Homo sapiens: one gene and its partners. The protein of the gene in region 2 purifies or fractionates together with the protein of the main gene of each other region. This does not show direct contact. Each region holds a gene or a part of one and is shown on either strand. Other genes may lie near its edges.

Region 1 (3,500 bases), on a different chromosome or scaffold from region 2:
GATAGTGAATAAATTTCACAGCATTCTGTGCCTGTCATTCAGGCCAGTAGGATAGCTCCTTTGCAGAATCTTTTCCCGTCTTTTATTCTTTTTATGATTGCCTCTTAACCAAAAAACTTTAATCAAAACTTAATTTTAGTAGTGGGGTTATCCTCACAAAGTCACTCCCGTCATTGTTATAGGCATACTGTGTTGGCGGCTGATTAATTCAGAATGCGTTGTTTAATGAGGCTTCATGGTACTGATGGCCTCCTTAGCTCCAGATACACAACTGGTAAATACACATTCCTTGTGCCTATTAATTGAGGCTTTGTGACTGGGTTACTGCAAACATAACCTTTCTATGGCCAATGAAATACCCAGTTCAGAAACAGTCTTCTTGATGAGATAGCATCATTTTTATTTATTTATTTATATATTTTAAAGATAGGGTCTCACTGTGTCACTCAGGCTGGAGTACAATAGTGCAATCGTAGCTCACTGCAGCCTCAAACTCCTGGGCTCAGGTGATCTTCCCACCTCAGCCTCCTCAGTAGCTAGGACTACAGGTGTGTGCCACCACTCCCAGCTAATTTTTAATTTTTTCAGATTTTTTGTAGTGACAGAGTCTCACCATGTTGCCTAGGCCAGTCTCAAACTCCTGGCCTCAAGGGATCTTGCTGCCTTGGCCTCCCAGAGCACTGGGATTACAAGCATGAGCCACTGTGCCCAGCCGGTAGTGTCATTTTAAAAATGAAGGATGAAACTTTTCAGTGTATTTTCCTTAAGTAGTTGATATAATGAAACGTGAATAAGCTTTAAAGTCAGACCTGCATTTGAATCCTAGTTCACGGATTAATTTGGCTTAACTTGATCAAGTTACTTTACGTAACCTGCCTGAGTAGGAAGAATAATGCTTTCCTGCCTGAGAAGTTCTGAGGATTCAATAAAACAATGTGCATAAAGCTCCTGAGAGCCTGATACGTAGGAAGTAGGAAAAATGTCGAATCCACCCCTTGCTAGTTTTTTTGAAATAAGGCGAGGGTCTCCCCCACAAGTGACTGTTTGCAAGGGTATCACTTGTTCTTCCTCTTTCAGTGGCTCCTTCATCCGAGTTGAACACATTGGGACCTAGAGTGTTGGCTTAGCTTCCCACTTCCCCGGTAGTGTGCTTAGGTGATGGGCTTCCCTATTGTTTTCCGTCTAGCTATCACTCCAGCCAGATGCTCTGGGGCTTAGGGATGATACTTCACTTTCCCTCCGTTTCCTAAATGCCAGTTATTTTGAGGTTGCCTGGTAAAACTACTACACTACACTGGGCACGGTGGCTCACGCCTGTAATCCCAACACTTTGGGAGGCCAAGGTGGGTGGATCACGAGGTCAGGAGATCGAGACCATCCTGGCTAACACAGTGAAACCCCGTCTCTACTAAAAATACAAAAAATTAGCCAGGCGTGGTGGCAGGCGCCTGTAGTCCCAGCTACTGGGGAGGTTGAGGCAGGAGAATGGCGTGAACCCGGGAGGCGGAGCTTGCAGTGAGCCGAGATCACGCCACTGCACTCCAGCCTGGGAGACAGAGTGAGACTCGTCTCAAAAATACCCAAACTACTAGACTGGTAAACTGCTAAAGGAATGGTCTTTCTGGCATTGCTCTGTCTCCCTAGACCGCCTTGGCCATGCAGTGTACTGTCTCCCTAGACTGCCTTGGCCATGCAGTCTACTGCTGAGCTTGCAGCTCAGGTACATGTACTGCTCAGTGCTCCTGGCACCGTGATCCAGGTACAGTCAGAATTCAAGGAGTAAGATCCGTTTTAGCATCTCCAAACTAAGCTTATTCCACTGACCAAAACCTGCCCCTCCTCTGATCTCTGTTAATAGCATTTTCCACTCACTCAACATGCCAGAGCGTCAGAGTGACATTTGACATTTCGCTCTTCTCTATTTCCCATATGTAAGCAGTCACCAGGGTCTAAAATTCTGTTCCTAATTTTTCTTTTGAAGCCTTCTTTTTCTCTCCATTTCCAAATATAATGGCTTATAGTACTAAAAAATCTAGGGTGACTGGGAAGTGAGGAGCCACTCTGCCCGGCCAGCCGCCCTGTCCCGGAGGGAGGTGGGGGGGTCAGCCCCCCGCCCGGCCAGCCGCCCCATCCGGGAGGGAGGTGGGGGGGTCAGCCCCCCGCCCGGCCAGTCGCCCCATCCGGGAAGTGAGGGGCGCCTCTGCCCGGCTGCCCCTACTGGGAAGTGAGGAGCCCCTCTGCCCGGCCAGCCGCCCCGTCCGGGAGGGAGGTGGGGGGGTCAGGCCCCGCCCGGCCAGCCGCCCCATCCGGGAGGTGAGGGGCGCCTCTGCCCGGTCGCGCCTACTGGGAAGTGAGGAGCCCCTCTGCCCAGCCACCACCCCGTCTGGGAGGTGTACCCAACAGCTCATTGAGAACGGGCCATGATGACAATGGCGGTTTTGTAGAATAGAAACGGGGGAAAGGTGGGGAAAAGATTGAGAAATCGGATGGTTGCCGTGTCTGTGTGGAAAGAGGTAGACATGGGAGACTTTTCATTTTGTTCTGTACTAAGAAAAATTCTTCTGCCTTGGGATCCTGTTGATCGGTGACGTTACCCCCAACCCTGTGCTCTCTGAAACATGTGCTGTATCCACTCAGGGTTGAATGGATTGAGGGTGGTGCAAGATGTGCTTTGTTAAACAGATGCTTGAAGGCAGCATGCTCCTTAAGAGTCATCACCACTCCCTAATCTCAAGTACCCAGGGACACAAACACTGCGGAAGGCCGCAGGGTCCTCTGCCTAGGAAAACCGGAGACCTTTGTTCACTTGTTTATCTGCTGACCTTCCCTCCACTATTGTCCTGTGACCCTGCCAAATCCCCCTCTGCGAGAAACACCCAAGAATGATCAATAAAAACAAAAACAAAAACAAAAAACCTCTAGTTAACACATAATAATGCCCGCACTGAGCAGATGTTCACTAAGGTGTTGAATAAATAGTTGAAACTGTAAAAAAAAAAAAAAAAAAAAAAAAAAAAAAGATGCTTTTAAAATATGAAAAAAAAAGATATTTTAATGAGAAAAGCTGAGTGTTGGGAGAGAAGCTGATGCAGGGCTTGCATGTCTGCTAGACTTGCTGGCTCCTTGCTTCTAGCACTCCCATTATCTCAAGCAGCCATATGTTTCTCATTCACTTGATACACTGTTTCCTTTCAACCCCCACATCCTCACCACCTGTTTCTTTGTTTGATCATCAATAAATGGTGTGGGCTCCCAGAGCTCCGGGCCTTGGCACAGCATCCACACTCGTGATGGCCCCCTGGTCCCACTTTCTCTCTCAAAAAAAAAAAAAAAAAATCTAGGGTGTACTGTTGCTTCAGAAATGCCCAAATATGGGTGTTCAAATTAAGAATTTGTCTCTGTCTCTGGGCTCTGCTTCCAGATGTGTTGTTTTCATTCTCAGGTAGACTATTCTACAGGTTACCATAGCAACTCCAAGCTTAGCAATACCAGCAACAAGA
Region 2 (5,238 bases):
AAAAATTATTAGAAAAAATATCAAAGACATGCCCATTTTGAAAAAAATAATTTTGAATAATGAATATATTTAAAAATGTGTTATTATAATTAAAATATACCAGTAGAAACCATAGTCCTGAGGAAACCTTTTAATGCCATTATTAGAAAAACAAAGTTGCAGACATTAGTGAATTATAGGTATTTTAGAGAAACCCCTAAAATTCATTATTTCAAGCAATGTATCTTTAAAGCATAGTTGCTTTTATTCCTTTATGGTTTAACATTCTTACTAAATAGTTCTTTAAGTTGGAACAAAAGATGATTTGACTTTGTGCCTCCATTTTAAAGTCAGATTTGGCATTAGGTGATATATTTCTGGTATCTGAAAAAAAGCCGAAAGAAAACATTGCCATTGCTAAACCTTAGTGCTGAACATTATAGAAAGTTAAATAATGAGAAAAAGTGTGAAGTGTCTGCCGGGCATGGTGGCTCACACCTGTAATCCTAGCACTTTGGGAGGCCAAGGCAGGTGGATCACTTGAGGCCAGGAGTTCGAGACCAGCCTGACCAGCATGACGAAACTGTGTCTCTAAAAAAAATACAAAAACAAAACAACAACAAAAAAACTAGCCGAGCGTGGTGGTGCTCACCGGTAGTCCCAGCTGCTTGGGAGGCTGAGGCTGGAGAATTGCTTGAGCGTGGGAGATGGAGGTTGCATTGAGCCAAGATCACGCCACTGCATTCCAGCCTGGGCAACAGAGCAAGACCCTGTCTCAAAAAAAAAAAAGAAAACGTCAAGTGTCTGTGTCTGTGCCACATACATTCTGGTTTCTTTTCTCCATAAATATTAATTACATTGGTCTCTGTTTTGTGGAAATGGAAAATCTAAAGGAAGTAAGTTGGAAGGCTAGCTGACCAGTGTGGTGCCATGCTGGTATTCCCCCTGAGGTGTGTGCCTTACTCACTGCATCTTTCAGTGCCTCTCTGTTTGGTTATTACCTAAATTTTGTTTTACATGGTATGAGGGAGGTGACATCATGAGTTGACCTTCTGGGAGTGTAGGTTTACTGTAAGAGCAGAATGTAGTGTAGTGACAGTTTCATTAGGAAAGCACTAGGGCAGGAGGAACTACTATGCCAGCAGCTGACACACCGATGTAAAAGTGAGATGGTAATCCAGTAATGCCTGAGCACACTTCACTAGATTACCTGACTCTTGGTTATGCTTAAATAAAAAACCTACTTTAGTTCATTCTGTAATGCCATGTATAAGTGAACACTAGAAAAAGCACGTGAAGATTTGTCTCAGGAAGATGGGTGAATGTAGAATGTTTTTAGAAAATGATACATACGTTTATTAATACACTTTAAAATTCTATGTTAATAACTGAGACTTCAAATAATAGCAGTAGTTTCCCTTTTATTACCTCTGAAAGCATTTTAAGATTCTCGTAATCTAAGTAATCTGGAATTCCTGCAACATAGTTGTTGTGGTGTTCGTTTTCTAATTCTACGGATGTTTGAAGAAACTCAAATGTAGCCTAAAAGAAGTCTTAAATATTGGAGAAAAAAACAGGTAAGAGGAAAAGTCAATAGAGATAACAGTATATCTGCAAATAATATTGGGTATATTCAATAATGTCATTATTGAACAAGACTAGATTTAAAAAATGTAATCTACACGATTAAGGTCTTATTGTTCTTGTCTTTGAATTTTGTTATGCACATGCGTTTATTTTCAGGCTTGACCATTTGTGGACATAATTGCCTCCTGACGGCAGAATGGATGTCTGCAAGTAAAATAGTATGTCGAGTGGGACAAGCCAAAAATGACAAAGGAGACATTATTGTCACCACTAAGTCAGGTGGCAGAGGAACCTCAACAGTCTCTTTCAAGCTACTCAAACCTGAGAAAATAGGTAAAGTCTTTCATGGGTTTATTCTAAAGAAGAAAGTAAAAATGAGTTTGTCTTTTAAGCTGTAAAGCTGGTAGATTCGTGTAAAACCTACCTACTTGCATATCTCAACTTAGATTTAGTTTATGTTTATTTTGACAGGATTGGGATGTTGGTTAATATTTGTGTTACTTTCGGGAAGGCAGTGTGCTGAGGTAACAGTCAGTGAAGCCTAAGGATGACGGTCGTATGAGAACTACTCTTCTCAGTTCTTAAAATCTGTTCGTTCACTTGATATACCAGTTTTGGTTCCTTGATCTTGAATATAATGACATTGCTTTAAACTCTTAAACAAGGTTTGAGGTGAAAAATCCTGATTTGGCCAAATTAGTAATAATATATCTAAATAATATTCCCTTTTCCTTCATTTTATCCATCCTTCAAGGCCCAGATGATACATTTCCTAGCTTGGCTGCTTTTAACGCCCCTGTTAGTAATACTCACTCTTCTTTGAACCACATAGCACTTTGTTTTCCTTCTTTATGCGCTGACCACTTGCTGCCTTCCGTTAGCAGTGTTAGGAACTTGCTGCCTTACGTTAGCAGCGTTAGGAACTTGGTCTGAGAAGTCATGCTCTTTGAATTCTAACCTGGACTCTCTTACCATGACTGAGTATGTAACTTTAATACCTTCTTTATCCATGAGCAAAAGTGGAATATATTGGCTACCTCATAGGATTGGGTGAGTTAGAACATAAATGTAAAGTGCTTAGCATAGTCCCTTACCCAGCAAATTAATAATTTCTGATGATCTTTCTTGTAGCTATTTCTGTGCATGTCTCTTTCCCTTTTTAGAATAAGAGTAATGTCAGATTCATCTTTGTGGTCCTGTAATGTCTTGCACCTGGTCAGCATTTGATAAATATTTGTATAATGTAGGAATATCAGAGGCGTAATTAAACCCAGCCAGTACTTCTCTTTATAAAGAAAATAAATAATTTTGCAAATTGTTTTTTTAATCTTAGAGCATAGAGGCTTTCTGCAGCATTGTTCTCCACAAATTCCTAGATTATTTTTATAAATAAAAATTCAAGGAATTTCAGGGAAAATTCAGAGTGGACTTTATATATGTACATGTACGTGCATGTGTACATATATACATATATAACATTTCTATTTTTGTTTACTCTTTTTATTTAGTGTCTTCAAAAACTAAACTGAAACTAAAGCAGGAACTTGTTGTACAGTTTTCTAGAGGGACTTAAACATTTTGATAAAAATCTAATATCTTATGATCTATTTATATAGCAGATAAAGAAAACTTAGGCAAAAGTGGTAATTTTATTATTCTGGAATACTCATTCCAGGACCTAGCACATAGTAGGCTTAGTAAAGGTTTCTTTTTTTTTTTCTTTTTGTTTTGAGACAGAGTCTTGCTCTGTCGCCCATGCTGGAGTGCAATGGCGCGATCTCAATCTTGGCTTACTGCAACCTCCGCCTCCCAGGTTCAAGCAATTCTCCTGCCTCAGCCTCTGCAGTAGCCGGGATTACAGGTGCGTGCCACCATGCCCAGCTAATTTTTGTATTTTTAGTAGAGATGGGGTTTCACCATGTTGGTCAGGCTGGTCTCGAACTCCGGACCTTGTGATTCGCCCACCTCGGCCTCCCAAAGTGCTGGGATTACAGGTGTGAGCTACTGCACCCGGCCAGTAAAGCTTTCTTGAACTGAACTCAAGAGTGCCTGGACTTGAGCAGAAGCCCCTGTTGCATGCTGGCAGAACCACGAGTGCTGAGAGAATGAGTGGGTTCATAGAGGGCCTTGCAGCTACAGGTTGCCTGGTATTCAGACAGCCTTCTCCCATGAAGCCTTCTGATCCTCGCCTGGGGAGGCAGGCACGCTTTGTCTGTGCTCCCTGGCACTTGGCTCTTTTTCTGTTGCAGCCCAGGGCCTTGGAGGCCTAGCTGGTAAGCCCTGTGCTAGGTTGAATGATAACGGAGTTCAGTCCCATAAAGGAAGATGCTGTTTTTAGAGCTTATGTTGTCTTGTTCACAGGGTCCACACCCAGTCAGTTTTCCCTGAATAACCTGGTTATTTCCATTATACAAGCCATGCGTTCCTTGAAAGGTGTTTGATTTAATCGTTAGATATTTTATTGAATTTACCAAATTGATTTCAGCCTAATACGGAAAAAAATCCCTGCTGTTTCTACCATCTAGGACATTTCCAGCACTGATAACAGCAAAAAGAATGAGAAATAGCAAGTAGCATATTATTTTTGCATAACTATTCATGAAAACATGCCAGAGTTTGTAGAGGAAAAGAAAATAAAAGATATTTCTTGAGAGCTTTCAAGAACCATTTAAAAAACATTTGGTTTTCATTTGTAGTGAAATGTCCTTAGGTAGCTTATGGAACCCAGAAGCAGAAACTCACAGTATTAAATATAAAATCATATATGCATAATGGTTTTTCGGCATTTATCATAAACCAGAAGCTTTCCACTGAGCTAACATTTTACTCGAATGTTTTGTGCTTGGATATTTCCCAGACATTTTCCAAGAGTTTACATGATTTCAGAATATTCTCTTGAATAAACAGATATTATAGGTCATATTATTTCATCTTACTGACTTTCTGAATTTTTTGTGCAGATTTAATCAGCTACATTTAACAATGTTTAATTGTAGTGTTTATTATTTGTAAAATATGTTTGTTATTGCAAAACTTTGTCTAAGCAGCTTAATTTGTCTTCTCTGTTGAGTAATGTACAATGAAACCATAAGCTGAGAGGTGTAATTTTTGCCTTTTTATAAATTTTTTTAGTGCTTATAATTAAACTACTAGTCATTTTTTAAAAATTTAGCTGTTATGTCCTCAAATCTCTTAAAGATTATCCAACAGGCATTTTGTATTAGGTCTTTAAGAAGTCAGACAATAGGCCAGACGTAGAAGGTGCCTGGGGTAGGCTTCATCTTATTAAGCATATGCTCCTCATTTCTGTAGGCATTTTGGATCAGTCTGCTGTGTGGGTTGATGAAATGAATTATTATGATATGCGCACTGACAGGAACAAAGGAATTCCGCCCTTGTCCTTACGTCCTGCTAACCCGCTTGGCATTGAGATTGAAAAGTGAGTACCATCTTGCTTTCAGTCTTCTTTATTTTTCAGTTCCTGAAAAGTTTTATATACTTACAGGAAAGGGACTCAAACTCCAGAAACATCCCAGGAAACACAGTTGAAGACACCTCAGTTGTTTGGAGATGGGTGTTATTTATGAAGCCTTGTTAGCTATGCTGCAAGTAAACTTTGCAGTTAGTTAAAACTTGTGGCTAAAACTACTTTTACCTCTTCAGTTTTTTGAT
Region 3 (3,500 bases), on a different chromosome or scaffold from region 2:
GGGGCGAGATGAGCGGCCGGCTGGGGCCCCTGAAGCTCACCCTGGAGCAGGGCCAGCAGTTGGTGGCCGAGGGTCACCCTGGGGCAAGCCAGGCCTCTGCCCGTGCAGCTGAACTCCAAGCCCAGTGGGAGCGGCTAGAGGCCCTGGCCGAGGAGCGTGCCCAGCGGCTGGCCCAAGCCGCCAGCCTCTACCAGTTCCAGGCCGATGCAAACGACATGGAGGCCTGGTTGGTTGACGCACTGCGCCTGGTGTCCAGCCCCGAGCTGGGGCACGACGAGTTCTCCACGCAGGCTCTAGCCAGGCAGCATCGGGCCCTGGAGGAGGAGATTCGAAGCCACCGGCCAACCCTGGACGCCTTGAGGGAACAGGCAGCAGCCCTGCCCCCCACACTGAGCCGCACGCCCGAGGTGCAGAGCCGGGTGCCCACCCTGGAGCGGCACTACGAGGAGCTGCAGGCCCGGGCAGGCGAGCGAGCGCGGGCCTTGGAGGCAGCCCTGGCGCTCTACACCATGCTCAGCGAGGCCGGGGCCTGTGGACTCTGGGTGGAGGAGAAGGAGCAGTGGCTCAACGGGCTGGCCCTGCCTGAACGCCTGGAGGACCTGGAGGTCGTGCAGCAGAGGTAGGCCCCTCAGGCTCCTAGTGGGACCAGCCTTGGGAGGTGGGGGTGGGGGGGCCAGGATGTGGGTGGTGAGTCCCTCCATAAACTTCCTGCCTCACCCCTTTGAGTCTTAATGGTTGTCCATTTCTAGTTTTAACAAAAAATGTTAACCATACTCACAAGTAGAGACATTTCACCACAAACCCCTCTACACCCGTCACCCAGATTCAGTCATTGCCAACATCTTGCTCTATTTGGTTCTCTGCCCTTTTAAAAAGCAAATCCCCAAGATTAGCACATCCCTCCTACCTTCTTCAGGGTGTGCCCTTTAAGAAATACAAGGAAGCGGCCGGGCACGGTGGCTCACACCTGTAATCCCAGCACTTTGGGAGGCCGAGGCAGGCGGATCACGAGGTCAGGAGGTCGAGACCATCCTGGCTAACATGGTGAAACGCTGTCTCAACTAAAAATACAAAAAATTAGCCGGGCACAGTGGGGGGCGCCTGTAGTCCCAGCTACTCGGGAGGCTGAGGCAGGAGACTGGCATGAACCTGGGAGGCGGAGCTTGCAGTGAGCCGAGATCGTGCCACTGCTCTCCAGCCTTGGCGACAGAGCGAGACTGTCTCAAAAAAAAAAAAAAAAAAAAGAAAAGAAATACGAGGAAGCATTCTTACCTACAATATATTATTTTCAAATTGTCTGTGTGGACTTAAAATAGCTGAGGCTTTGAAGTTATAAACCTTTTAGACAGAGACACTAAAATAGTTTTATTTACAGAATAAATCTTCAAATCATTTATTCAATAATAAATCTTAAAAATTTTTTTATAGAACCACAATACCATTATCACATAGAACAAAATTAGGAATTTCTTTTTTTTTTGAGATGGAGTCTCACTCTGTCACCCAGGCTGGAGCGCAGTGGTGCGATCTCGGCTCACTGCATGCTCTGCCTCCCGGGTTCCAGCGATTCTCCTGCCTCAGCCTCCCAAGTAGCTGGGACTACAGGCACCCACCACCATGCCCAGCTAATTTTTTGTATTTTTTTATTAGTAGAGACAGGGTTTCACCATGTTAGCGAGGATGGTCTCGATCTCCTGACCTCGTGATCCACCCGGCTTGGCCTCCCAAAGTACTGGGATTACAGGCATGAGCCACTGCGCCGGGTCAGGAATTTCTTGATATGATCTATGATCAATGTGTAATCAAATTTCCTGGTGTTTAAAAAAATATAATTAGGTCAGGCCTGGTGGCTCACACCTGTAATCCCAGCACTTTGGGAGGCCAAGGCAGGAGTATCACTTGATTCCAAGAGTTCATAACCAGCCTGGGCAACATAGTGAGACTCCACCTCTACAAAATTTTTTTTTTAATTAGCCAGGCATGGTGGCAGGCGCCTGTAGTCCCAGCTACTGGGGAGGCTGAGGCAGGAGGATTGCTTGAGCCCAGAGGTCGAGGCTGCAGTGAGCTGAGATCGTGCCACTGCACTCCAACCTGGGTGACAGAGTAAGACCCTGTCTCAAAAAAATAAATAAAAATAAAAATGTAATTAAAGATTTTTTTTAGTTTTCAAGGTATCCTAATGTAGAGGTTAACAAACTGCAACCCTTGGGCCAAATCCAGCCTGCTGCCTGTTTCTGTAAATAAAGTTTTTTTTGGTTTTTTTTTTTTTTTTTTTTTTTGAGACGGAGTCTTGCTCTGTCCCCCAGGCTGGAGTGCAGTGGCACAATCTTGGCTCACTGCAAGCTCCGCCGCCCGGGTTCACGCCATTCTCCTGCCTCAGCCTCCCAAGTAGCTGGGACTACAGGCACCCGCCACCACACCTGGCTAATTTTTTGTATTTTTAGTAGAGACGAGGTTTCACCGTGTTAGCCAGGATGGTCTCGATCTCCTGACCTTGTGATCCACCCATCTCAGCCTCCCAAAGTGCTGGGATTACAGGCGTGAGCCACCATGCCCGGTCTGTAAATAAAGTTTTACTGGAACAGAGCTACACTCGCCCTTTTGCGTATTGCCCGTGGCTGCTTTCAGGCTACAGCAGCAGGGCTGAATAGTTGCCGCAGCAGCTGCATGGCTCACGAAGCCTATAATATTTACCATCAAGCCCTTCACAGAAAACATTTGCAGACCCTGCCCTATTAGAACATCAAATGTCGGCCAGGCGAGGTGGCTCACGCCTGTAATCCCAGCACTTTGGGAGGCCAAGGCGGGTGGAGCATGAGGTCAGGAGTTCAAGACCAGCCTGGCCAAGATAGTGAAACACCCGTCTCCACCAAAAATACAAAAATTAGCTAGGCTTGGTGGCGGGCACCTGTAATCCCAGCTATTCGGGAAGCGGAGGCAGAAAATTGCTTGAACCCGGGAGGCGGAGGTTGCAGTGAGTCGAGATTGCACCACTACACTCCAGCCTGGGTGACAGAGCGAGACTCCATCTCAAAAACAAAACATAAAATGTCCCTGGAAGAAGTTATCCTTCACATTTTCATCACTCAGACAAATATTTTTGGTTATTACTTCATTTTCTAACACATATTAGTGGGATGAGACCCAGATAGGCAGCTAAGGGGGAAGTCCCAGGAGGCTGAGCAGCTCTGATAAAGGGTTGGCCCCATGCCAGGGTCTAGTTTGACTTGTGTGTCTGTTCCTGACCTTTACCTTTCACCATCTTTTGAGCATTTCTAGCGATGACAGTTATTCTGCTTGTTTTGGGGGAGTTGTGGGTTCCTTCCTTGATGCACAGATACTATGAACCTCATAGGCTGAGAGGCAGAGAGACTCCTGCAGATAAGCCTCCTGGTGAAGGAGACACCCTCCTGGGTGTTTAAGAGAGGTGGACTTAGGTGGACTGGGCACATCGCTGCCTCCCACAATTCACGCCTGGCTCTTCCACCCTCTCAGGTTCG

Evidence for each region. The genes of interacting proteins can lie anywhere in the genome.
Region 1: the proteins of EXOC2 (region 2) and RUBCN purify together in Homo sapiens (affinity purification with western blotting, with the first as the bait; one study listed by BioGRID). This does not show direct contact.
Region 3: the proteins of EXOC2 (region 2) and SPTBN2 fractionate together in Homo sapiens (co-fractionation; one large-scale study listed by BioGRID). This does not show direct contact.

What each region holds. Positions count from the first base shown.
Region 1 is NC_000003.12:197,730,405-197,733,904, reverse strand, and holds part of RUBCN (run domain Beclin-1-interacting and cysteine-rich domain-containing protein), read left to right. Parts: intron 1-3,500.
Region 2 is NC_000006.12:629,602-634,839, reverse strand, and holds part of EXOC2 (exocyst complex component 2), read left to right. Parts: intron 1-1,722; coding exon 1,723-1,899; intron 1,900-4,878; coding exon 4,879-5,005; intron 5,006-5,238. UniProt on the Homo sapiens protein: Component of the exocyst complex involved in the docking of exocytic vesicles with fusion sites on the plasma membrane.
Region 3 is NC_000011.10:66,701,717-66,705,216, reverse strand, and holds part of SPTBN2 (spectrin beta chain, non-erythrocytic 2), read left to right. Parts: coding exon 1-619; intron 620-3,495; coding exon 3,496-3,500. UniProt on the Homo sapiens protein: Probably plays an important role in neuronal membrane skeleton.